6 linked regions of the Homo sapiens genome follow. The protein of the gene in region 5 purifies or fractionates together with the protein of the main gene of each other region. This does not show direct contact. Each region holds a gene or a part of one and is shown on either strand. Other genes may lie near its edges. The genes, in order: DCAF13, UGCG, MAP7D3, SLC26A2, SLC20A1 and FLVCR1.

The links.
Region 1: the proteins of SLC20A1 (region 5) and DCAF13 purify together in Homo sapiens (affinity purification with mass spectrometry; one large-scale study listed by BioGRID and IntAct). This does not show direct contact.
Region 2: the proteins of SLC20A1 (region 5) and UGCG purify together in Homo sapiens (affinity purification with mass spectrometry; 2 studies listed by BioGRID and IntAct, with this or other methods). This does not show direct contact.
Region 3: the proteins of SLC20A1 (region 5) and MAP7D3 purify together in Homo sapiens (affinity purification with mass spectrometry; one large-scale study listed by BioGRID and IntAct). This does not show direct contact.
Region 4: the proteins of SLC20A1 (region 5) and SLC26A2 purify together in Homo sapiens (affinity purification with mass spectrometry; one large-scale study listed by BioGRID and IntAct). This does not show direct contact.
Region 6: the proteins of SLC20A1 (region 5) and FLVCR1 purify together in Homo sapiens (affinity purification with mass spectrometry; 2 studies listed by BioGRID and IntAct, with this or other methods). This does not show direct contact.

What each region holds. Positions count from the first base shown.
Region 1 is NC_000008.11:103,425,386-103,428,885, forward strand, and holds part of DCAF13 (DDB1- and CUL4-associated factor 13), read left to right. Parts: intron 1-670; coding exon 671-760; intron 761-1,711; coding exon 1,712-1,867; intron 1,868-3,500. UniProt on the Homo sapiens protein: Part of the small subunit (SSU) processome, first precursor of the small eukaryotic ribosomal subunit.
Region 2 is NC_000009.12:111,895,504-111,899,613, forward strand, and holds the start of UGCG (ceramide glucosyltransferase), read left to right. Parts: upstream 1-1,310; 5' UTR 1,311-1,712; coding exon 1,713-1,810; intron 1,811-4,110. UniProt on the Homo sapiens protein: Participates in the initial step of the glucosylceramide-based glycosphingolipid/GSL synthetic pathway at the cytosolic surface of the Golgi.
Region 3 is NC_000023.11:136,248,601-136,252,882, forward strand, and holds the start of MAP7D3 (MAP7 domain-containing protein 3), read right to left. Parts: upstream 2,801-4,282; 5' UTR 2,759-2,800; coding exon 2,689-2,758; intron 1-2,688. UniProt on the Homo sapiens protein: Promotes the assembly and stability of microtubules.
Region 4 is NC_000005.10:149,981,258-149,984,757, reverse strand, and holds part of SLC26A2 (sulfate transporter), read right to left. Parts: coding exon 2,945-3,500; 3' UTR 1-2,944. UniProt on the Homo sapiens protein: Sulfate transporter which mediates sulfate uptake into chondrocytes in order to maintain adequate sulfation of proteoglycans which is needed for cartilage development.
Region 5 is NC_000002.12:112,648,939-112,652,438, reverse strand, and holds part of SLC20A1 (sodium-dependent phosphate transporter 1), read right to left. Parts: intron 1-3,500. UniProt on the Homo sapiens protein: Sodium-phosphate symporter which preferentially transports the monovalent form of phosphate with a stoichiometry of two sodium ions per phosphate ion. May play a role in extracellular matrix and cartilage calcification as well as in vascular calcification.
Region 6 is NC_000001.11:212,892,775-212,896,274, reverse strand, and holds part of FLVCR1 (choline/ethanolamine transporter FLVCR1), read right to left. Parts: intron 1,290-3,500; coding exon 1,222-1,289; intron 1,060-1,221; coding exon 985-1,059; 3' UTR 1-984.

The sequences.
Region 1 (3,500 bases), on a different chromosome or scaffold from region 5:
CGTGCCAACAGTTTTGCTCACTGTTGCTTTTTTACTATTTGTGCAGCTGTCAGCACAGTGAAAAGACAAACTATGTCTTTACTAACATTATGAAAATAGTTTTGACTGTGTGGACCCTGAAAAGTTCTCAGGGTCCTCCAGAGGCCCAAAGTTCACAGTTTGAAAACCACTGACTTAGTAGTTTCTGCAGTTCATGCAGAAAAGGACTTTATCTATTTCAATATTATAACAATGCCTTCTCTCCAGTATTTTCATGTTTTTCATTTTATTTTTTACATTTAAAATTACCTGGAATTTTATTTTCACATAAGGCATCAAATTGGCTCAATTTTTTTGAATGACTAACCAGATATTATAATACCATTTTTTATAATCCATTTTTTCTCCAAGTTGAAATGCCATGTTTATCACAATATGCATGACCTAACTTTGCCCCTGTTCTTGTTTTTCTTTTGCTCTACTCATTATATTTTTAGTTTTATGTACTTTATGTATTTGTCACAAATCTTTACTAAAACAAGGTGGGATATAAATGGATCAATAAGTGTAATACTGGAATGATATGGTATGTTACCTGTTTTAAACAAGATACTTATTTGATATGTGTTGGCAAGTTTTAATTTATAACTGTTGTTCCTTACCATCATCATAATAAAACAAATATTTCTAGGTTGGTGATGACAAAACTGTGAAGCAGTGGAAAATGGATGGGCCAGGCTATGGAGACGAGGAAGAGCCATTACATACAATATTAGGAAAGGTACAAAAGTAAATTGACTAATAGCTTGCCTATTAACATTCTTTTATTTAAAATTATTTTATAGTTATAATTTCCTAAGATGGGGAAGAAGATGCAGATAAGAAACGAAAGACTTTAGGCTGTAATTGTTGACCCATTTACGCAATATTTAATGCAGCTAAAGTCCTTTGATGCTAAAGAATTTTAACAGTTTTTTTTTTTTTTGGTATTCATTGTAGTAGAGTTTGATTTCTGTTTTTAGCCAGAGGATACAATGAAACATTTCCCATGGGAAGACCACGGAGAAAAAGATAGAAGTTCAGAAAATGCTTCAGCTTGTCTAGTTGATGTCATCATAGATCTTACACAAAACTCAGAATTTCTTAGTTGAAAGACTCCTTTAAGAAATGAAGAAATTTAATAGTATTATGCATCATGTATAAATCTTATTAATGTTTCTACCAAATTATTCTGCAAATCAGGTGATGGGTGGTTTAGTTTTAGCATAAGAATAATTTAGAACATTTGGTCTATCCATGTTTTATAATGTTTACATTTTTATATTAAGCAAACAATTCCAAAATTAGATTTAATCTTTAAATTAAATCTACCTTTTAAAAATCACTTTGTCGTTTCAATATTATGGTTAGTATATAATATTTAGGTTCTGCTTTAGGTTTCAAGAAGACTAAATGTTCTTAAAGGGATAGGGGAATGGGGTATGAGTATGAGGTAGAGATAATTTGTAGTTGGAAACACGTTAGTAATTTCTAAAACAAAATTGGTTTCATTCTTAAAATGTCTTGTCTCATTATGGTATTGTTTCCCCCTTTAAGTAAGGACTTCAAAGAAGTTTCTTTGTGAACAGGGCTTTTCTCTAAAAAGATAGTATAGATAAATATATTTAAAATATTATTCTGCAGATTTGAATTAGTAATGAAAAAAATCCTCTTAACCTTTTTGCTTTTAAAGACAGTGTATACTGGGATTGATCATCACTGGAAAGAAGCTGTTTTTGCCACATGTGGACAGCAAGTAGACATTTGGGATGAACAAAGAACTAATCCTATATGTTCAATGACCTGGGGATTTGACAGTATAAGTAGTGTTAAATTTAACCCAATTGAGGTAATGTTTTTTTTTAAGTATGTTTTACTTATTATGGCTTAATAATTTCAGTTCTGTTTAGAAAACTTTTGAATGTATGATAGAAACTTCTGAATTTTAATGGTGTTTTGGCATTTTGTCAGTTTTCCCGATTGTAAATGAGTTCTGATACCTTTGCTCAAATCCCAACATGTTTCCCAGCAGTTTAGTCCCAGATACTAGAGTTAAGCATTGTTAGAGGAGTGGTGTGTGCATTTGCCCATTGGGGTAAAATCCAAGTAAATATAGTCTTGTTTTAACTTTAGTTTTACTCATGCCTTCAACTTCATGTTCCATAGATTATGTCATTGTACATTTAGGAAAATGTTAATTTTTCTACCTGCCTTGGAGGTCAGAAGAAGGAGCATTGGACATCATTTTGTCTATTTGTAATTGGTAAGGTACCAATGCTTCATAAAAACATTTGTGATTATTGTTGAACTGCATGGTAATTAGTTATAGTTATATTTTTCTTTGCTCAGAAGTCTGAATTGTGATTCCCAGTTCCTCCAGGCCTAAGGGAAGAGTTGGAGATTGGCCACTACATGTCGTCTGTTTAGGTCTGAATTTAGGAATGGAGGCTGTCCTGAAGGCTAAGCTAGCCCTTGGACTCCAGATCTTTCTCTGAACTTTTTCTTAATGCATAACAATAGATGAACTGATTGTCCAGAAGACTCAGTAGGGATATGTTTTTCCTGTTGAAAGAAAAGGCAATCATAGCATATATAAGCCAATTTTAGCAGTTATTGCGAGGCTACCATTTTAGGTAGTATGAGAGAAAAATCCTAATATGCAAGTGTTATGCTCTTAAAGACCCAACCTGATAAAAGATAGGAAGTAAGGTTGAGTCAAAATAGTAAGGTATAAAAATAGTTTGTATGATATACTGGAAAATGAGATGCTGCAGTGCGATGTGAGCTTGGCCTTGAGGAATTACTGAGAAGTCAGAGGACACTCTTCCTGCAACTACCACATGCTCACACACACACTTTCTAGAGACGCTACAGGTCTAGAATAGGTTGGCAAACTAGTCTGTGAGCCACATGTGGCCCACTGCCTGTTTTTGTAAATAGAGCTCTGCTAGAAGACAGCCATGTTCTCTTGCGTACATATTGTCTGTAGCTGCTTTCGTGCTATGATGGCAGAGTTAAGTAATTGCCACAGAGACCATATGGCCCACAAAACCTAAAATACTTACTCTCTGGCCCTTTACAGAAAAAGTTTTCTGATTCCTGGTCTGGAGTGTCTGTCTCTATTATATCTTTCTCACTCCATCCTCCATCTTCCTTCCTTATGTTTCCCTTGGTTGTAGAAGAGAGAAGTGGCATGGAAAGGCAGCTACCTTTGCAGAGCAGGACCAAGTGTAAAAGTTGATAACATATGTGAACATTTTTTAAAAGTGCTATCCAAATTCAAGATGGTGACGGTATTACGTACTAAAAAAAAAACACAAAAAAACCTAAACAGACACTGGTTCTTACTATTTAGAGGAACAAAAAAATCTTTTGCTTCTCTGCTTTGGTGAACATCTGTGTCAGAAGAGCCGATCACCAATTCTAAAATCGTAATTATTAGGGATGACCTAGTGACCATGTTTTTCAAACTTGCCTGTATA
Region 2 (4,110 bases), on a different chromosome or scaffold from region 5:
ATTACAGGCGCCTGCCACCACGCCCGGCTAATTCTTTGTATTTTTAGTAGAGACGGGGTTTCACCATCTAGGCCAGGCCGGTCTTGAACTCCTGACCTCATGCTCCACCTGCCTCCGCCTCCCAAAGTGCTGGGACTACAGGTGTGAGCCACCGCGCCCAGCCACAACTTCTTTTCAAAATTGAATTCAATTCTGAAATATCTCAAGGGAGGTCATGGATTATTTAAAAGGAAATCACTTGCAACAATAAACATAAAACAATGCAGAAATAGTATAAACTCATCTAGATTGAAGAAACACAAACATTGAGTACTAGCATCTTCTTGGGATGACTTAAAATTAGGACAAATACTTAGTTACCTTACTACCCAAAGTGACATTTCTTCCCATTTTAGAGCTGTGCTGTCCACACGTACAATTAAAATTTTCTAGTAGCTAGCCAAAGTATTTAAAAAGAGAAATTAACTTAATAATTTACCTAATTTAATGTAGTATGTCCAAAATATTACCTTTTCAACATGCAATCAATATAAAATTTACTAACGAGATGGTCTTCCACATCTGGTGTACTGTTTACTCCACAGAGTGGCAAGCTGCCTTTCCAACCCTCACTTAGCCACATGCGGCTACCGTATTGGATGGCAGTCTTAGGGAATTTCAATATCAACTGATTCTTTAATTCTGAATTTGAGAATTTCTTTTTATAATACACACGGTCGCTAAGGCGCTTAGAGATCTGTGAGGCGCATGGAGATTATTTTACTCTCCGGTCCCTTTTGATCCAAGATCCCACAGCATTAAAAGCAGTAAGAGGGAAGGCAATGGGCATCCCTTGCGCCCAGGAACGTGGCCTGGAGGGCCTGGCTGCTCCGAGCAGTAGCAGTGCCCGGCGGGGAGGCTGCAGACGCGGCGTTGGAAGTTGGATTTCTAGACAAGCTCCGGCAGCTGCCCGGAACCCGTGTCTTTTTCTGGGGCACCCAGGAACAGCAGGGCCAGACGGAGAGAGAGCAGCCTCCAGCCAGGCACAGGGTCCCGAGCTGCCACCGACACCGAGGGAGCCCGGCCCAGGGCTGCAGCGCTTTCCGCCTAGGTGGGCGGCAGCGGGAGCGAGGAGCCGGAGGAAGCCCGGCCTGCGTCCTGCGGGCAGCAGGACACGATCTCCCCGGCGCGCTCTCGCCGGCGCCGCAGCGGGCGCGCGGGCGACAGGGTGGGCGTGGACCGATGGGGGCACCGCCCCTGGGAGAGGCGGGCGCCGCGGTTCCGGGGGCGGGACGCGCCGAGGAGTGGGGCGCGAGCCGCCGGTTTTGATTAGTGCGCGGAGCTGCGGCGGTGGAGCTGCTCGGCCGGGAGCCCGGCGGCGAGACGGAGAGGCGGCGGAGGTGCCCGCGCGCAGGGTCTGGTGGGCGGCCGCGAGGCTCGGGAGAGGCGAACCGGAGCGCGGGACCGCGGTCGCCCCGACCAGAGCCGGGAGACCGCAGCACCCGCAGCCGCCCGCGAGCGCGCCGAAGACAGCGCGCAGGCGAGAGCGCGCGGGCGGGGGCGCGCAGGCCCTGCCCGCCCCTTCCGTCCCCACCCCCCTCCGCCCTTTCCTCTCCCCACCTTCCTCTCGCCTCCCGCGCCCCCGCACCGGGCGCCCACCCTGTCCTCCTCCTGCGGGAGCGTTGTCCGTGTTGGCGGCCGCAGCGGGCCGGGCCGGTCCGGCGGGCCGGGGGATGGCGCTGCTGGACCTGGCCTTGGAGGGAATGGCCGTCTTCGGGTTCGTCCTCTTCTTGGTGCTGTGGCTGATGCATTTCATGGCTATCATCTACACGTGAGTGAGGGACCGCAGGAGGGGCTCGGGGCAGGGGTCCGGGCCTCGGAGACAGGCGAGAATGGGAAACGTTTGCGCTTTGAAGGGGACTGGGCTCGGGCGGGGGTGGAGAAAGCTGATCGTCAGGCTGTTCCCCCCGTTCCCTCGCCCCTCGGACCGGCGGTGGCGGTGGTCTTTGCGAGGGAAAAGTGTTGGGCGTGGGAAGGGTTTGCTGGGTTGCAGGCGACTGCCCAGCCAGGCTAAAGGAGACTGCTCTTACGTGTCAGGCTGAAGGTGGTGGCTTGGTTTGATTGTGCTGGGGATTCGTGTAATTTTTCATCTGGGCCGAGATGTATGGTGTATTGTTTTTTTCTCCCGACCTGGGCCACGTTTCTGTTAGGGTGGTGATTGTGTCCACTTTTCTGGGAGCTGCTCACAGCTATCTGGACACCTCTCTGTGGATTTTCTTCTTCCTGGAAGGGCTCTATGCGCTTAGATAGGTGTGAAGCACCTGTCCACCCTGAAAAATGTCCACCAAACCTCCGAGCTGGCATGATAGCTTTGAGTCCTGTCAGCTTGTACATCTCAGCGTGGTTTTCTTTCCTTTTTTCAGTTCCTCGTTTTATTGTTTTATGTAGATTTGTACTCTCCCCGTGCCGGCCACATCTTTTCATTTTTGTTTAACAAATACTTCTTGAGGCCTACTAGATACCATTCACTGTTATTGGCCAGGGGACATGGTGGTGAGCAGGACAGAATTCCTGTCCTCATGAGTCTTACATTCTAGAAGGAAGGAGCAGATAAAATCTAAATAAGGTTATGAGATTGTGACGAAGCGTGTAAGTAAAATAGAACTGGGTGATGGCGTGAATAGAGACATGGGTTATGTGGCTAGTTTGGTATATCCACTGTTTAAGGTGAAATCTGCCTCTGTAAAGAAATGAAAAAATTATATAGAGCACATTACTGATATCGATTCACTTGGATTTTTAGTCTGGGGGGAGAAAAGAGCAATTGTATATAGTAATCGTTACCATGAACTAGAATAGAGTGTATGTTAGTGGAAGAGACTTTAAGAAATTAGTTACTTTTAGTTTTTTGGTTTTTTTTTTTTCCTTTTTACTGCGGAAAAAGTGTGCCTTTGCTTTTGGAAACACTGTATTTTATTAGTATAGTGTGGCATTTCCTGGTACTGAGAAAGATGATGCTGGTACAGGTTATACTGATATTTCTTTGAAAGTGAAAGAAAACATGCCACTTGGATATTGTTGACTTTAGTTTTTGGAGTTGGTGAGCTTAGTCACAGCACATTCTGGAGTTCATTTAAAATATGTGAGTTCTTTTTCTTTAAAAAAATTGTTACTTTTTACCGTCATAAAAATAAAAAATGCTTACTGTGTAAGGAATTTATGCAATAGAGAGAGATGGAGAAAATTAAAATATGCACACACCAAAACTACATTACCTTGTTAACCTTTTGTGACTATCCTTCCAATCTGTGTGTGTGTGTGAGAGAGAGAGAAGGAGGGAGGGGAAGAGGGAAGAGAGAAAAGGACTATATTATGATTATTGTTCTGTAACCTGCTTTAAAGTTCATCTGTTTAATAAATGTTTATTGAAAAGCCGTTTTGTGCAAGGCACTGTTCTAGTTGCTGGAAGAGTGAAGAACAAACATACAAGGCCCCTGTTCACATGGAACTGTCCTGTAAAATGTCTTGACCGTTTTTTGCATGTCAATATCTGTATGATCTCTACATCATTTGTAATAGATGCATGATATTTTAGTTTACCAGGTACCAAGATTTATTTATTATTACTGATGGATGTTTAGGTTGTTTCCAATTTATCTAGATTACAAAGAACACTGTGATGAATTTATATGCATACATCTTTGAGAAATGATCTCATTTATATTTCCGAAAGAGGAATTATTGGGCCAGAAGTGGTGCACATTTTAAACTTTGATACATATTGGCCCCATGGAAATGTTATGTATATTCACAGTCCTGGTAACATTGTATGATGGCCCCATTTTGCCTTACAAACACTAAGTAGCAGGCATTTCACTGTTTTCTGTTTCTATTTTCATTCCTTTAAAGTTACATTGAGCACTTTTAAAATATGTTTATATGCTAGTTACATTTAGATGTAAATTACATACTCATAATCCTTTGCCTGTGCTGCAATCTGTTGCTGAATTCATCTTTCTGATATAAAGGTTGTTTTCTGTCACATGTAGCATTCTTTTCCCCAGTCTGTTTTTTGTCTTTTAACTTTGTACATATATTTGACATGGAGAAAAGTGTGTGTGCATGTGTGTT
Region 3 (4,282 bases), on a different chromosome or scaffold from region 5:
GAGATTAAATAAGAAAATGTGTAGTGTATTACTAAAACTGAATTATGAATCTTAATCTGTATTTATAGAACTTTTCTAAAAACTTCCATAACACATATTATATACCATTTCACCATTTACAAAGTTCATTTGTATTACTTCATGTAATTCTTACAACAATCCTATAAAGTGGACGTAATTATTTTCCCCAATTTTTTTTATAGTTGAAAAAACTGAAGCTAAACATAACTTTCCCAGTTCACACAGGTAGTAAGTGGTGAAGCCAGAACTTGATTTAACTGTAAATTTCAAAGCAACTTTATTTTGAAATATTAAGAAAAAATAACAGGAAAAGAAATCTGCCATCAGAGAACCATAAAAATCAGGCAGATTCACAGAATTTTGCCTCAAATAGCAAAAGCCAAAGTCATAGGGCTGAGACTTTCAGAAGACCTCCAAGTTCAAACCAAAGATAGCATGTCTTGAAGACAAAACTGGAGACAATTTTCTACCATTTAGAGCTGTCTACAATGGAATGGCTACTTGGAAAAATATTAAGCTCCTCATGAGAGTGCCCATTCAAGTGGCAGAAGTGCCCCAGGATTTTACAGCTGGGACTCTGGATGCCTGACAAGATCATCTTAAGGTTTCTCCAACTCTAAAATTCTATGATAATCTAGCTGTCAATCTCCGTAGCTTTTTCTGCATTGGTAGAAATTATTCTTTGAAAAAGTTATTCTAAACTGAGAAACACTGGTGAATTTAGAAAAACAAGAAGGGAAAGGTGATACGTCAGTGGCAAGTTTCTTATGCTCATCTGGTTGAAATATTCAAATAAATTTTTATTTTAAAACAATTCTGCATAAAAATATAAACACGTGTTTTGTTAAATATTTGGTATGCTACAACCTCAGCACAGTGCTATGCACAGAAAACATCACTCAACAAATATATATTTACACTTTATATGTAACACATATATATATACATGTATCTATTGCATGCATACATAAATGTATAAAATAAATGTATTTTGACTGTGCTATGCATTTATATGTTATGTATTCAAGACAGTTTTAACTCTTGCTGCCAGACTGCCAGCAGAAGATGAAAACAACATTTTAGCAAAAACATCTGTCTCCTTGACCCCTTCAGGAAAACGCTGAGATCTAAAGGGCAGTTCTGGTCAAGTTGGTGCTCTGTGAAAAAAGTCTAACATGCGATATTTACAATTCCTAACATGAAGTGGGCAGCAAGGTTTTAAACCAGGGTCCTAGGTTAAGACTTTTACATGGCTCTTAAGTTTTTGGTTTGAAATGCTGTGAATTCCAGTATCTGTCCCATATATAATTTTAAAACACTTTCCAACATCTGATATACAAATGCTTTTAGGGGTTTATCCGGTTCACAGCTTCTTCACCATATTGGAGTAATGCTGGTTAATCTAAATCACTGAAATAAACCAGTGCCTGAGAGCCACAGGTACCAATAAGCAACACAATTTATTGGAGACTGTCTTTCTAGGTGAACCATAAGTATAGACACGGAAGGAAGATTCTTTTCTCCCTAATGAATGGTGAAAGTGTATGTAGTATATGCTTCTGACACAGTCTTTGGAGAGCTGATTCAAAGTCTTCTCAAGTAACATATAGCTTCCCAATCGTAAACAATCTAACTTTTTAATTGCAAATGCAAAAAAACCCCTAAGAAATTCAATTAAAATTAATAAAATCGTTTTATTCGCGCTCATAGCAGAGGGAACTAGTCTAACAGGCTAAAAGCAACCTCCTGAAAGGAAGAAATCCTATCTCAGGTAGTGGAGCAGTCTCCTGGACCAAGCAATGTGCTGTCAAATTGTATAAGATTAACGGTTTTCGAGGAGGGAAAAACGTTTTGGCGATGGGACTAGTTGAGGAAAAAGCACTCTGAAGTGCTGATTCCCGTTCAGTTCAGCCTAGAGACTGCAAGATGTCCCACAGAAGATGACATCTTGTTGAAGTCATGTGCTACAGCAGGCAAATCAGGAGATGCAAAGAGCCAAGTTTCATCCCAACTTTTAAAGCAACTTTTAAGCATCCCCACCCTCACCCAGCTTCCTCCCTGGACCTTGACCGGGAGGGTGCAGGAGGTAAGCCTTTGGGAGAGGCAAGGACTGCGACAGTAAAAGCGCCTAAACTCGCCCACGACCCGGGCTGGGGGATAACTCAAACTTTCCGTGCCTGGAAAGGCTGCCTGGCGGCGGAGGCGGCGCCGGCGCGCGGAGTCCCTGCGGGCGCCCGCACATCCCAGGCAGCTGTGCGTTCGTTGGGGCGGTTGCGCGGGCGGCCACCGCCCCCCAAGGGCAGATGGGGCACGGGGCGGTCCGCGGGGTCCGGCTTCCAGCCGCCCCCGCCCCGCCCGTCGAAGCAGAGCCCGTGAGTTGCCTCGCGCCGCGTCCGCGGGGCTCAGACCGTTGGCAGCGGCAGTTCGACCGTTGGCGGCGGGACTCAGGCGGCTCGCGGCGTCGGCTGACAATTTCAACCCCCCGCCCCCGCCCCTGTCCCATCCCAGGGCACTCCGGCGGGGGTGAGGGGAGGACCAGATAGCACGAGGCGACTCCAGGGAAAAGTTTTGTGGCGCCCGCTGCGCCGCTCCGACGGCCCGGGGACTGCGGGAACCCTGCCTCCCACGCGGGCCCGAACCACCCCCGGGAGCCACCCGCCCGCTCACCCATCCGTGCCCGCAGCTCTCTCAAGGATGGGCTGCCGCCAGCGCCAGCTGCGGCGCCGTCCGCCATCATCGGAGTCGGGACCGGAGGCGGTGGTGGCTCTCCGCATACATTGCGCAGGCGTCGGCGCGGCCTCCGCTTGGGTCGTGGCCGGGCTGCCGGTGGGCGGGGCGGGGCGGGGCGGGGCGGGGCGGGGCCCGAAGGGCCACCGCGCCCGCCTCGGACCTGCGAACCGGGCAGGATTGCCCCTTGCGTCCCACGTCCTGACCGGCTGGGCAGCGACTACCTGGTCTAAAGAAACCCTCTCCTATGTTCCGTGCTCTGCCCCTACTGCATTGTGAGGACTAGCCAATCAGCACCCAGCTTGGCCCCCCCAACATTCCTTTCTTCACCTTTACCTAGCAACACAGTAACATTCCTTCCTCATTCATTCATTCATTTAAAGAACATTTACGGCGTGCCTCCTGGGTGCGCTTGTATCATGAGTTTACTAGTCCTTGAAACATTACACAAAGAAAGACCCAAGTTGGGGGAAGAAGCCTAGGGAGAGGTTGGGAGTCGCAGGCTTGCTTTGAGGTGCTAGGGGCCCCATCATGAGTAGGCTTCCCTAAACTGTTGCACAATAAATCATGACACATAGGTCTCAAAGTTGGGTGAAATATCTTTAAGATGTTTGTGAGTCTTCAAAGAGAGGCAGAGGACTTATTGGCATCAATCTCTCCGGATTTTGGGAGAGACTCTACCAGGTTGCAGAATGTTTTTCCCATTCACAAGGAAAACCGTCATTGGCCTGAGGCTCCTTTAAGGGGCAGACCTCACTTCATGGGGGCTTGCCCTTATGAGGTGGAGTCACCACTGTTGTGAGTGTGTGTGTAGTGACATAGTTGTAGGCACGCAGTTTATGGTTGGGGCCATTAAGTGTGGTGCAGGAGATCCCAAAATGGGGCTGGACCACTTGTGAGATGGGCACTTTGGCGAGACCACTGAGTCTCCAAATGACATGGGAGCTGTAAAATGGAAGAAGCTAATAATAGCATATATTACATATGTTAGCAATGATAGCATAAGTTACATATATTAATATATAATATATATAATATGTAATATGGGGCAGGCACGGTGGCTCATGCCTGTAATCCTAGCATTTTGGGAGGCTGAGGTGGGTGGATCATTTGAGGTCAGGAGTTCGAGACTAGCCTGGCCAACATGGTGAAACTCCGACTCTACTAAAAATACAAAAATTAGCCGGGCATGGTGGTGGGTGCCTGTAATCCCAGCTACTTGGGAGGCTGAGGCAGGAGAATCGCTTGAACCCGGGAGGTGGAGTTTGCAGTGAGCCATGATAGCACCACTGCACTCCAGCCTGGGTGACAGAGCGAGACTCTGTCTCAAAAAAAAAAAAAAAAAAAAAAAGAAAAGAAAAGAAAAAGAAAAAAAAGACATTACGTTGCACCTACAATTTTAACAAAAATTAAAACGTGGTCAATAAGTGTTTGCGATGATGTAGATTAATACAAGTGGGGGGCCAGGCACGGTGGTTCACACCTGTAATCCCAGCCCCAGCACTTTGGGAGGCCCAGGCAGGTGGATAACCTG
Region 4 (3,500 bases), on a different chromosome or scaffold from region 5:
TTTGTATCAATATAGTGTTTAAAATAATGCTTAAAGAACTAAAGTCCTATCCTTTGGTCAAGAGAGCAAATGAAAACAGTTTTTTGTTTGTTTGTTTGAGACGGAGTCTCGCTCTGTCACCCAGGCTGGAGTCCAGTGGCACAATCTCTGCTTACTGCAACCTCCGCCTCCCGGGTTCAAGTAATTCTCCTGCCTCAGCCTCCTGAGTAGCTGGGACTACAGGCGCGTGCCACCATGCCCCGCTAATTTTTTGTATTTTTAGTAGAGACGGGGTTTCACAGTGTTAGCCAGGATGGTCTCGAACTCCTGACTTCAGGTGATCCACCCGCCTCGGCCTCCCAACGTGCTGGGATTACAGGCATGAGCCACTGCACCTGGCCGAAAACAGTTTTTTTATCGGCAAATTAGGCTTTGGTTCCAGGTTTCATTCCTCTGAATATCAGCAACCAAAACATTTTAACAATATGCAAGTATAGGCAACCTCAACCCAAGTAGAGAGGATGAAATGTAAATTCTAGTGACATCTTAAATGTTTCTACAGATGGCTACCAAAAGCAGAATCTCTTGTTTGGATGGATGGGACAAGTACAAACCAGAACATAATTCAAGGATTCGCTAACTGCATGCATAACGTTCCAGAACTGTTTACATCCACATATGGACAGAAATCGCTGGTAAAGGTCAAATCCTGTTATCCCTCCTTCTGAGGGATTTTCCAGAATCTTTGGCTGGAATTATATTTTTTGCTGTGTTGGTGTTGGCTAATTATAACATCTTAAGCATGTACTCATTACTCTGTCACAGGTTATTAGACACCTATAATAGTCTCAACTTAAGCCTGCCTTGGGAGAAGGGCAAGAGAGATTAAAAATAAATAACTTGGCCAAGTGCAGTGGCTCACGCCTGTAATCCCAACACTCTGGGAGGCTGAGGCTGAAGGATTGCTTGAGCCTGGAGTTTGAGACCAGCCTGGGCAACACAGTGAGACCCTCTCTCTAGAAAAAAATTTAAAAAATTAGCAGGGTGTGGTGATGCATACCTATGGTCTAGCTACTCAGGAGGCCAAAATGGAAGGATAACTTGAGCCCAGGAGTGGGAAGCTTCAGTAAGCTATCATCAAACTGCACTCTGGCCTGGATGACTGTCTCTTAAAAAAGAAAAAAGGAAAAAAATAAAGACTGACCAAGATACTGTGATTTTACTGCTATTATTCATAAGGCTGGATAGAAAGGGCAAATACTGGCTAAAAAACAAACAAGAACAAATACAAGCAGCAATTAACATTTCTGGAATTCCAGACCCAAGTTCTAAAAGGATGTCAAAATTCAGGAAGCCTACACTTGATTATAATCACCTATAAGACAGAAATCACCTATAAGACAGAAATCTAGACTTTCTACTGAGCAACTGCTTTGTTGTGATAATGGAAAGGTATTTTCCATGTCACCAAATGGGAGAGCTCTACCAACAGAAAAGCAACACTGGCAGCTTATGGAGCTAACAATAAAGCTAAGTTACATATATCTATATAGGATAATATAGATATAATAAAATATATATGCATTTTAAATATACATATTAAACATGTACATACTTAATATATGTCTAAAAGCATCCCACTCCAACAGATGCCCTACACATAGGGTTTGCTTCTCATAAATATTTAAAATTGTTTAGAAACTGGGAACAGATTGAAAAATGATTTTGTACTTTTGCAGTTTACTTTTTTTTTTTTTAAGATGGCTGTTTCATAAATTAGTTCCCTATTCCTAACTTTGGAGAACCTGGTTTTTTCTTACCTTTCAAGGTCCAAATATAAAACTATAAACTTTCAGTGTTGGACATTCTTGCTTTTTGAAAGCAAATTCCTCCTCAATTCATGACCTGTGGGCCAGCTATCATGAATAATACACCCATAGCACTTGGGTTTTATGAATGTGACTTCTAAATCCTCCTGCATAATAGCTTTAGGTGACTTGAAGAGTTAAAAGCTGTCATTGTCATCAATATTTACTGTACATCAAACTCATTTAAAATGCTGTTAGAAATTGCTGACTGGCAAGACTGTCACTGACAAAAACACCAGTTTAGGACAGATTCCATGGGAAACAAACTAGAATAACTGAAAGCTAAAATAGAGCTTAATGGTAGAGAAAGTCTCAGAAACAAGGACAGAGATCACAGAAAAGACAAGGAAGGACTCCTATTGTTTTTTCTGATTTTGAAGAGCTCTTTGTGCTTACCTATTTATCCTAAACAAAAAGGCATGAGTAAAAATTTCCAATGTATTACAAAGGGTATTCTGTCTAATGTCAGGCTGGCTCTCAGGATGTTATAAACCTGCCCAGGTATTAGACTTCTGATGAGACTGTGCCTTAAGGACAGGAATGGCACTTTCCTACTAAAAACTACTGCCATCTGGGGAGCAAAGACTGGGGATAGAAAACTACAAGAACAAACCTGTCTAGTTATGACTTTGTGATCCAGAAGCCTCTTGACCTATGGTACTAGAGCAGGTGCAACATTCTTTCCCTCTCTCCACTGAGCCACATAAAGAAGTCTACAGCACTTCCAATGTAAATCCCAACTTCACCGCTTCATCTCTTGGAGAATGCACAGTCCAAATGTATAACCCCTAAAACAGGAGAGTAATTAAGTTTTGGAGCTACTTTACAGTACAGTTCAATACATACTTATTGCATTCCAAGAATACTTCATATCTGCAAGAAAGCCTGAAACCGTATTTTCTTCTTTTTGACTCTGTCCAGCTACAAGCTCTGCTGCAGTGTGTATATACAAATGCCATTAGCTTCAAAGGAGGAATAATATCTAGCCACTTGGTTAAAATTTCAAGTGTGCAAAATTTCCCACTGTGGAACTGGGAAATGTTGGACACTTGAAATTTTAACCTATTGGCTAGACATTCTTCTATCTACCTTCTCAATTAATCACTACTAAGACTCAGACCATTGGGAACACATACTCCTTTCTGATTTTTAGATACTTCTGCAAAAGCCATCGCTTCATACACACTATAGAAGAGAAGGTTTTCTTCTTCCTTTTTGCAATATTCTCCGTTGGTTAGGGAATCCCTCACAGTGGGATTGCACTGAGCCAGCAGAACCTGGATTCCAATGGCTTCATAATCTCTGCGAACTTCTTTCAGTGTGTGGATCCCTGCTGTATCTAAAAATTGAATTGCACTGCAGTCAATCACTATAGTATGCAGCTCCAAGGGATCATGGGAAAGTTGCACTGACATTTCATCCTGGATTCCACCAAGAGTCACTACTTTTTCTTTGATCTTTCTCTTTGCTGCCTTCTTCCAAGCCACCTTTATTAAGATTGGGTTGACAGTTTGTTTGTATAAAGCAGATTTAAAGCATTCTTTGTTTATGTAGTAGAGAGGGGCTACAAAGCGGAAAATCTTGATGCCTGGCTTAATCTGAAGGTTCTTGTAAGCAGACACAGATTCAAAGACCTCAGACTCTTCCACCAAG
Region 5 (3,500 bases):
TTGCAATACCCACATTCTAAGGTACCCAAAAGCCCTAATATAAACTTCAGCACACACCTGAGGATAGGCTATACTCTACGTTTGTAAGAGATGTCAAGAAATAGACTATGTTAGGATGTTGCTTACCTGACTTCATATCTTCAAAGACTAAAAATACAACATGCAGACTATGCGTACGCCAACCATCTTATCTAAACATCTGACAAAGATGCCACAATTAATGCTTTACCGAAGTTCAATGATAATAACTGATTGTGCACAAGGTCATCCACTCACTCAAAAGACTGTGTGCCAAGTGCTATTCTGGGCACCGAAATATAGGAGGGAATAAGACCAAGTTCCTGTTCTAATAGAACTGACACTCACCTTCTAGTATGGAATAATGTAAAGTACTGACAAATGCTGTGAAGAGAAATAAAGAAGGGTAAGAGGAGAGTGATGGAAGGGGGGGCACCATTTGGGTGGGGAGGGTCAAGGAATAAGCATGACATAAATGTAGTAAGCTAGCAAGCTGTGTACATTAACTATGGGTACAGAAGGGGCAAACCACCTGATTATTTGGGCGCTGAATGTTCCAGACAGAGATATCAGCAAATGCAAAGGCCCTAAGGCAAAAACTTGAAATGTTTAAGGAACAGTAAGGCCAGTGACTAAAAATAAGAATTCTACCATACCTAGTATGTATTAATTCTATAGGAGAACACCCAAGTCAAACACCGAAAGAATGGGAGGAGGCTGGGCGCGGTGGCTCACACCTGTAATCCCAGCACTTTGGGAGGCCGAGGCAGGACAATCATGAGGTCAGGAGATCGAGACCATCCTGGGTAATACGGTGAAACCCTGTCTCTACTAAAAATACCAAAAAAATTAGCCCGGATGTGGTGGCAAGCATCTGTAGTCCCAGCTACTCTGGAGGCTGACTCAGGAGAATCACTTGAACCTGGGAGACAGAGGTTGCAGTCAGTGGAGACTGGGCCACCTCACTCCAGCCTGGGCAACAGAGTAAGACTCCATCTCAGAAAAAAAAAAAAATTGGGAGCAAAGATCTGAATACATATATGGGAAGGCTAAAAACTTTATAAAGACCTTAGCCTAAAAGGTTTAATGTTATCTTGATCACAATTCCAGTGGAAAATCTTGGGGAGGAAAAACAGAAAGTAAAACCCTACAGCTTCCAACAATAATCAATACACTGGAAAGTTAGTAGCTTAAGACCAGTGAAACAAGGGAAAGCTCAGACCCATGTGTAAAGTAAAGGTACCATTTCAAATTAGCAGAGATGAGCACTCATTGAAAACCACTCTAAAATTTAACTCTTATCTATAGTTTAATAGAGAATGTTAACAGATAGTGAAATAGCCAAAACAAAAACAATAGCATACAGAAATCAAGAACTGTTAAGCATCCTTGAATAACTAACTCAACGGTGGTCAAACTCTGAGGGCAGTCAACAAGATTAGGAAACTAAGGTGTGTATTTTTATTCTAAAGACTAGTCTTAAGAAAATGCAGGTCAGGTGTGGTGGTGGCTCATGTCTGTCTGTAATCCTAGCACTTTGGGAGGATGAGGCAGGGGATGGCTTGAGCCCAGAAGTTCAAGACCAACTTAAGCAACAGAGCAAGACTCCACCTCTATAAAATATAAAAAGTTAGCCAGATGTGGTGGCACACACCCATAGTCCCAGCTACTCTGGAGGCTGAGGCAGGAGGATCACTTGAGCCTGGGAGGTCAAGGCTGCAGTGAGCTACAATTAAGTCACCGTACTCCAGCCTGGGTGACAGGCGAGACTTCGCTTAAGAAAAAAAAAAAGCCAGGTGCAGTGGCTCAAGCCTGTAATCCCAGCACTTTGGGAGGCCAAGACGGACAGAGCACCTGAGGTCAGGAGTTCAAGACCAGCTTGACCAACGTGGTGAAACCCCGTCTCTACCAAAAATACAAAAATACTAGCCGGGTGTGGTGGCGCCTGTAATCCCAGCTACTCAGGAGGCTGAGGCAGGAGAATTGCTTGAGCCCGAGAGGCGGAGGTTGCAGTAAGCCCAGATCGTGCCACTGCATTCCAGCCTGGGCAACAGAGTGAGACTCCGTCTCAAAAAAAAAAAAAAAAGGCTCCAAAAAACCCAACCCAAGACTCCCACCCCCAAAAATTTCCTGGGTTTTAAAGACATTATGTGGGGACTTCTCAATAGATTTTCAAAGATATTTCGTAATATGATTATCCATAAATCAAATTGTAATTGACTAGTCTGAAGTAGCAGCCTGTGTATTTATTATCCTGTATAGCATAGCCCAATTAAGTATTCCCTGAGGTAAACAAATCTGAGGTATTCTCTACGCAAAGTTGTTGGGGATGGGGTAGGGTATGAATGACACTACTATACCAATAGTTTATTGTGAAATACAGGTTCATGGTTAAAAAAAAATCAAAAGTTCCAGAGAGTCTAGGAAGAAGGTAAAACAAGAAAGGTCTCATCATTGTAGAGATCCACCTAACACACAAGTAAAACTTCACCTGGAAATAATGTGAATGCCTCATCGTCTAGTCATGTGGGACAGGAAAGGTCTTCACAAAACCCCCCATCTTCACCAGAATAGTTCACTTTTACATATTGGATATTCTGGTTTTGTCTAAAGAAAAGGGAAGACATCCTAAATATATTTCTAACTAATGAGAATGCCAAAAGCCCTATTTTCTTTGACTAGAATTTAAAAATACTCAACAGGAGCACTGAAGCATATTCCTTCTGTGCGATGCCAGTCCTAAATAGAAGTACCTCACCTCCATTCTGTCTGTTCCCACCTATCCCCAACATGCTTGGAACAAACATTCAGAGAATAGAAAATGTTTAAAAGCAATTTTTTGAAATTAAAAAAAAAGGTCATGTTAATCTTAATTTTCAAGATAGACATTTAAGAGTTGGAATATATCTTAATGGTCAAATATTCAGATTTTAGCAGTTAAGATACCAAAAGCTTACCAGTCTAAGGATATTTTCTTGAAATTTAACTCCTAAAAGGAAGCAGAAATATTCATACTCAACTGAAAACTCCTGTTACTGAGGGATTGGCCTGCAAGAGTGTGTGTGTGCACGTGCACAGAGTGGGGGAAGATCCTCAAAGTCAATATTGTTTTAAACACTATGCCAATCATTCTTCATCATTTGATCATGCCCATTCCCATACCCATATAGGAAATATACAATTAAGAAATCAGTTACCGTATCTAACTTCAGCCCTCAATAACACCGTGGGGGTATGCATTCCTCAAATGAGAGGTTCTGGGCACCTGAGAATCCCTCTTTGCACCTCAGAGCACCACCATTCCCCTTCCGGGGAATAAGTGTTTTGTGGAGGTGAAACACACAAACCCTCTCCAAAAACAAAATGATCTGCTACTCAATAATCAACACAGGGCCAGCATAAACCTTTACCAAGCAGGAATTCACAACAGGAGATCCTACTAATGCTTCTGACTCTCTGCTAAGTAGCAAGATATACAGTTC
Region 6 (3,500 bases), on a different chromosome or scaffold from region 5:
TCTGAAGTTATTATAGATTTCCTTATTTCAGGAATCTTCAAGGCAAAATATACGATGTGATACATGAAATCATGAAATAGCCAGTAACATACATGATGAAATTATCTTACTAGAAAGTTACACATCAGGAAAAAAAAAAAAAGAGAGTTTAAAAGAAAAAAAAGGCAATGGGTACAAAACTACTCTATCTCAAGTTGGAGTGAAAAAATACAGCGTTAGCATTTATCCATGATAGAAAGGCAGCACAGAAAAGAACTCAAGACAGAATGAACCTGTAACCAGGCTCCTTAATTAGAACATAATTCTAAGACCAAAGTCTGGGTAGAATCTGTACACAGAATAGTTTTTATAGCCATTGACTGCATGTGTTAAAAAGTACTTTGTAACAAGAGTACAATAAATGGGAAAAATCTTAGAGGTCATCTGAAAGCCTGATCCCAATGCTGTCCTTTGTGGGTGAGTAGTGTCATGTTGGTATGTTGTACTCAAACTGAAGTGGCTTGAACAGCTGGTCAGCACAGTGAAAAAGGCAGCCAATTAGGAATATATTGTACATTTAGTTCCACTGGATACTTTAATATATAAACTGCATGAACTATTATATCTTATGGGGACTGAACACCCCATATTATCACTTTAAAAAGTATTCTAAGCTTCCATTTTCTACAAAAAAGAAAAACATCGACTTTTAAAAAGTAAACGTCAAGAAGCTTACTTTCAGATACAATATGAGACTAAAAACCGGATACTAATTAGATAAACAGTAGTGTTAACATGATGTAAACAGAAGAATTTTAAGAAAATTTCCCTTAATTTAACAATTAAGCAAAATAATAATTATGCATTTAGAGTTCATATGGTAATTTTCAAGTAAGTGTGTTTATTCCCCCACCACATACAAACCCAGCCTTGGTGCTCACATCTCTCTCCAAGGATGATCACATTGTCCCCAATTACTACAGGACAGTAACTTTGCCTTTCTCTTCAAATTGCTGATTCTGACTGCTTGGACAACATAACCGTTTTTGGTTCTTGGTCTGTGGGACTGTCAGCTGGTATCTATAAAAACAATCAGAAGATTAAAAATGTATAGCATCTGGCATATCCTATTATAACAGATCAACAGTTGACTCGGGAGAAAAATAGCTAAATAAAAAAATATGGTTTCACATTTATTCTATACATACTTCTCAACAGTATAATCATAAAAATATTACTTACAGCTTTAACATCAACATTTGTAATTCCTATATTTATGTTGTGTCTTCGCAGATCAGACTTGATTAATGCTGAAACAGAGGGGCATCAAGTTACTATAAACTGTTATGTGAAGATTTTTTTAAAAAGCAGCTCAAAGTCTTTCTTGGTATTGTCAAATTTAATGCACTGTAGTGTCATGATATTTAATAGCATCCCAACAGCCTAAAAAATAATAGTACCTCTCTAAAGTTGTTAACAATTAATAAGTCATTCATTATTGAACAAATACGGGAATGCTAGCAACCAATGATACAAAAATGAAAAGTGTAATTCTTTTTCTTAAAGGACTCTCCAATCTAGGGAAACTTTGACATGTAAACAAGTATAACAGTGTGTGATAATTGCAAGGTATGGTGGGGAAGTGGGAGCAAAAAAAGTCTATGTCAGCCAAAGGAAATTAGAGAAGGCTTTCCAGAGAAGACATACTTGATACTGGAAAAAACTGAGTAATAACTTGTCAAGCAGACAAGAGGAGAGGAAGGCATTCTAGGCAGAAGGGAATGCAGGTATATCTCAGAGACATTGTGGGTTCAGCTCCAGATCACCACAAAAGAGTGAATATTGCTGGGCGTGGTGGGTCATGCCTGTAATCCCAGCACTTTGGGAGGCCGAGGTGGGTGGATCACAAGGTCAGAAGATCGAGACCATCCCGGCCAACACGGTGAAACTCCATCTCTACTAAAAACACAAAAAATTAGCCAGGCGTGGCGGCACGCACCTGTAGTCCCAACTACTAGGGAGGCTGAGACAGAAGAATCACTTGAACCTGGGAGGTGGAGGTTGCAGTGAGCAGAGATCGCACCACTGCACATATTTTTTGGTTTTCCAGTGCATAAAAAGTTATGTTTATACTATACTGTAGTCTATTTAAAGTTTGCAATAGCATTATGTCTAAAAAAAAAAATCAATCTACATGCCTTAATTTAAAAACACTTTACTGGCCAGGCTCAGTGGCTCATGCCTGTAATCCTAGCACTTTGAGAGGCCGAGGCGGGTGGATCACTTGAGGTCAGGAGTTCGAGACCAGCCTAGCCAACATAGTGAAACCCCCATCTCTACTAAAATACAAAAATTAGCTGGTTGTGGTGGTGGGCATCTGTAATCCCAGCTACTCAGGAGGCTGAGGCAGGAGAATCACTTGAACCCAGGAGGCAGAGGTTGCAGTGAGCCCAGATGGCGCCATTCCACTCCAGCCTGGGCAACAAGAGCGAAACTCCATCTCAAAAAAACAAAACAAAACAAAAAACACTTTACTGCTAAAAAATGCTAATGATTATCCAAGCCTTCTGCAAGTTATCTTTTTGCTGGTGGAGGGTCTTGCCTTGATGTTGATGGCTGCTGACAGATCAGGGTGGTGGTTGCTAAAAGGTGGGAGCGGCTGTGGCAATTTCTTAAAGTAAGACAGTGACGAAGTTTGCCGTATTAATCAACTCTTCCTTTCATGAAAGATCTCTCTGTGTGCAATACTTGTTTGATAACATTTTACCCACAAAACTTCCTCAAAACAGGAGTTGATCCTCTCAAACCCTGCCACTGCTTCATCAGCTAAGTTTATATAATATTCTAAATCCTTTGTTGTCATTTCAACATTTACAGCATCTTTACTAGTAGATTCCAACTCAAGAAAACACTTTCTTTGCTTATCCATAAGAAGCAACCCAGCCAGGCGCAGTGGCTGACACCTGTAATCCCAGCACTTTGGGAGGCCGAGGCAGGCAGATCACAAGGTCAGGAAATCAAAACCATCCTGGCTAACATGGTGAAACCCCGTCTCTACAAAAAATACAAAAAATTAGCCGGGCGTGGTGGCGGGCACCTGTAGTCCCAGCTACTCAGGAGGCTGAGGCAGGAGAATGGCCTGAACCCGGGAGGCAGAGCTTGCTGTGAGCCGAGATCACGCCACTGCACTCCAGCCTGGGCAACACAGCAACATTCCGGCACCCCCCCCCAAAAAAAAAGAAGCAACCCTTCATTTCTTCAGGTTTTACCATAAGATGCAGCAATTCAGTTACCTCTTCATATTCCACTTCTAATTCCAGTTCTCTTGTTATTCCCACCACATCTGCAGCTATTTCCTCCACTGAAGTCTTGAACACCTCAAAATCATCCATGAGAATGGGAATTAACTTCCTCCAAACTCCTGTTAATGTTGATAGTTTGACCTCCTCCCATGAATCAAGAATGTTCTTAATGGCATCTAGGATGGTGCATCCTTTCCAGAAAGTTCTCAATTTACTTTG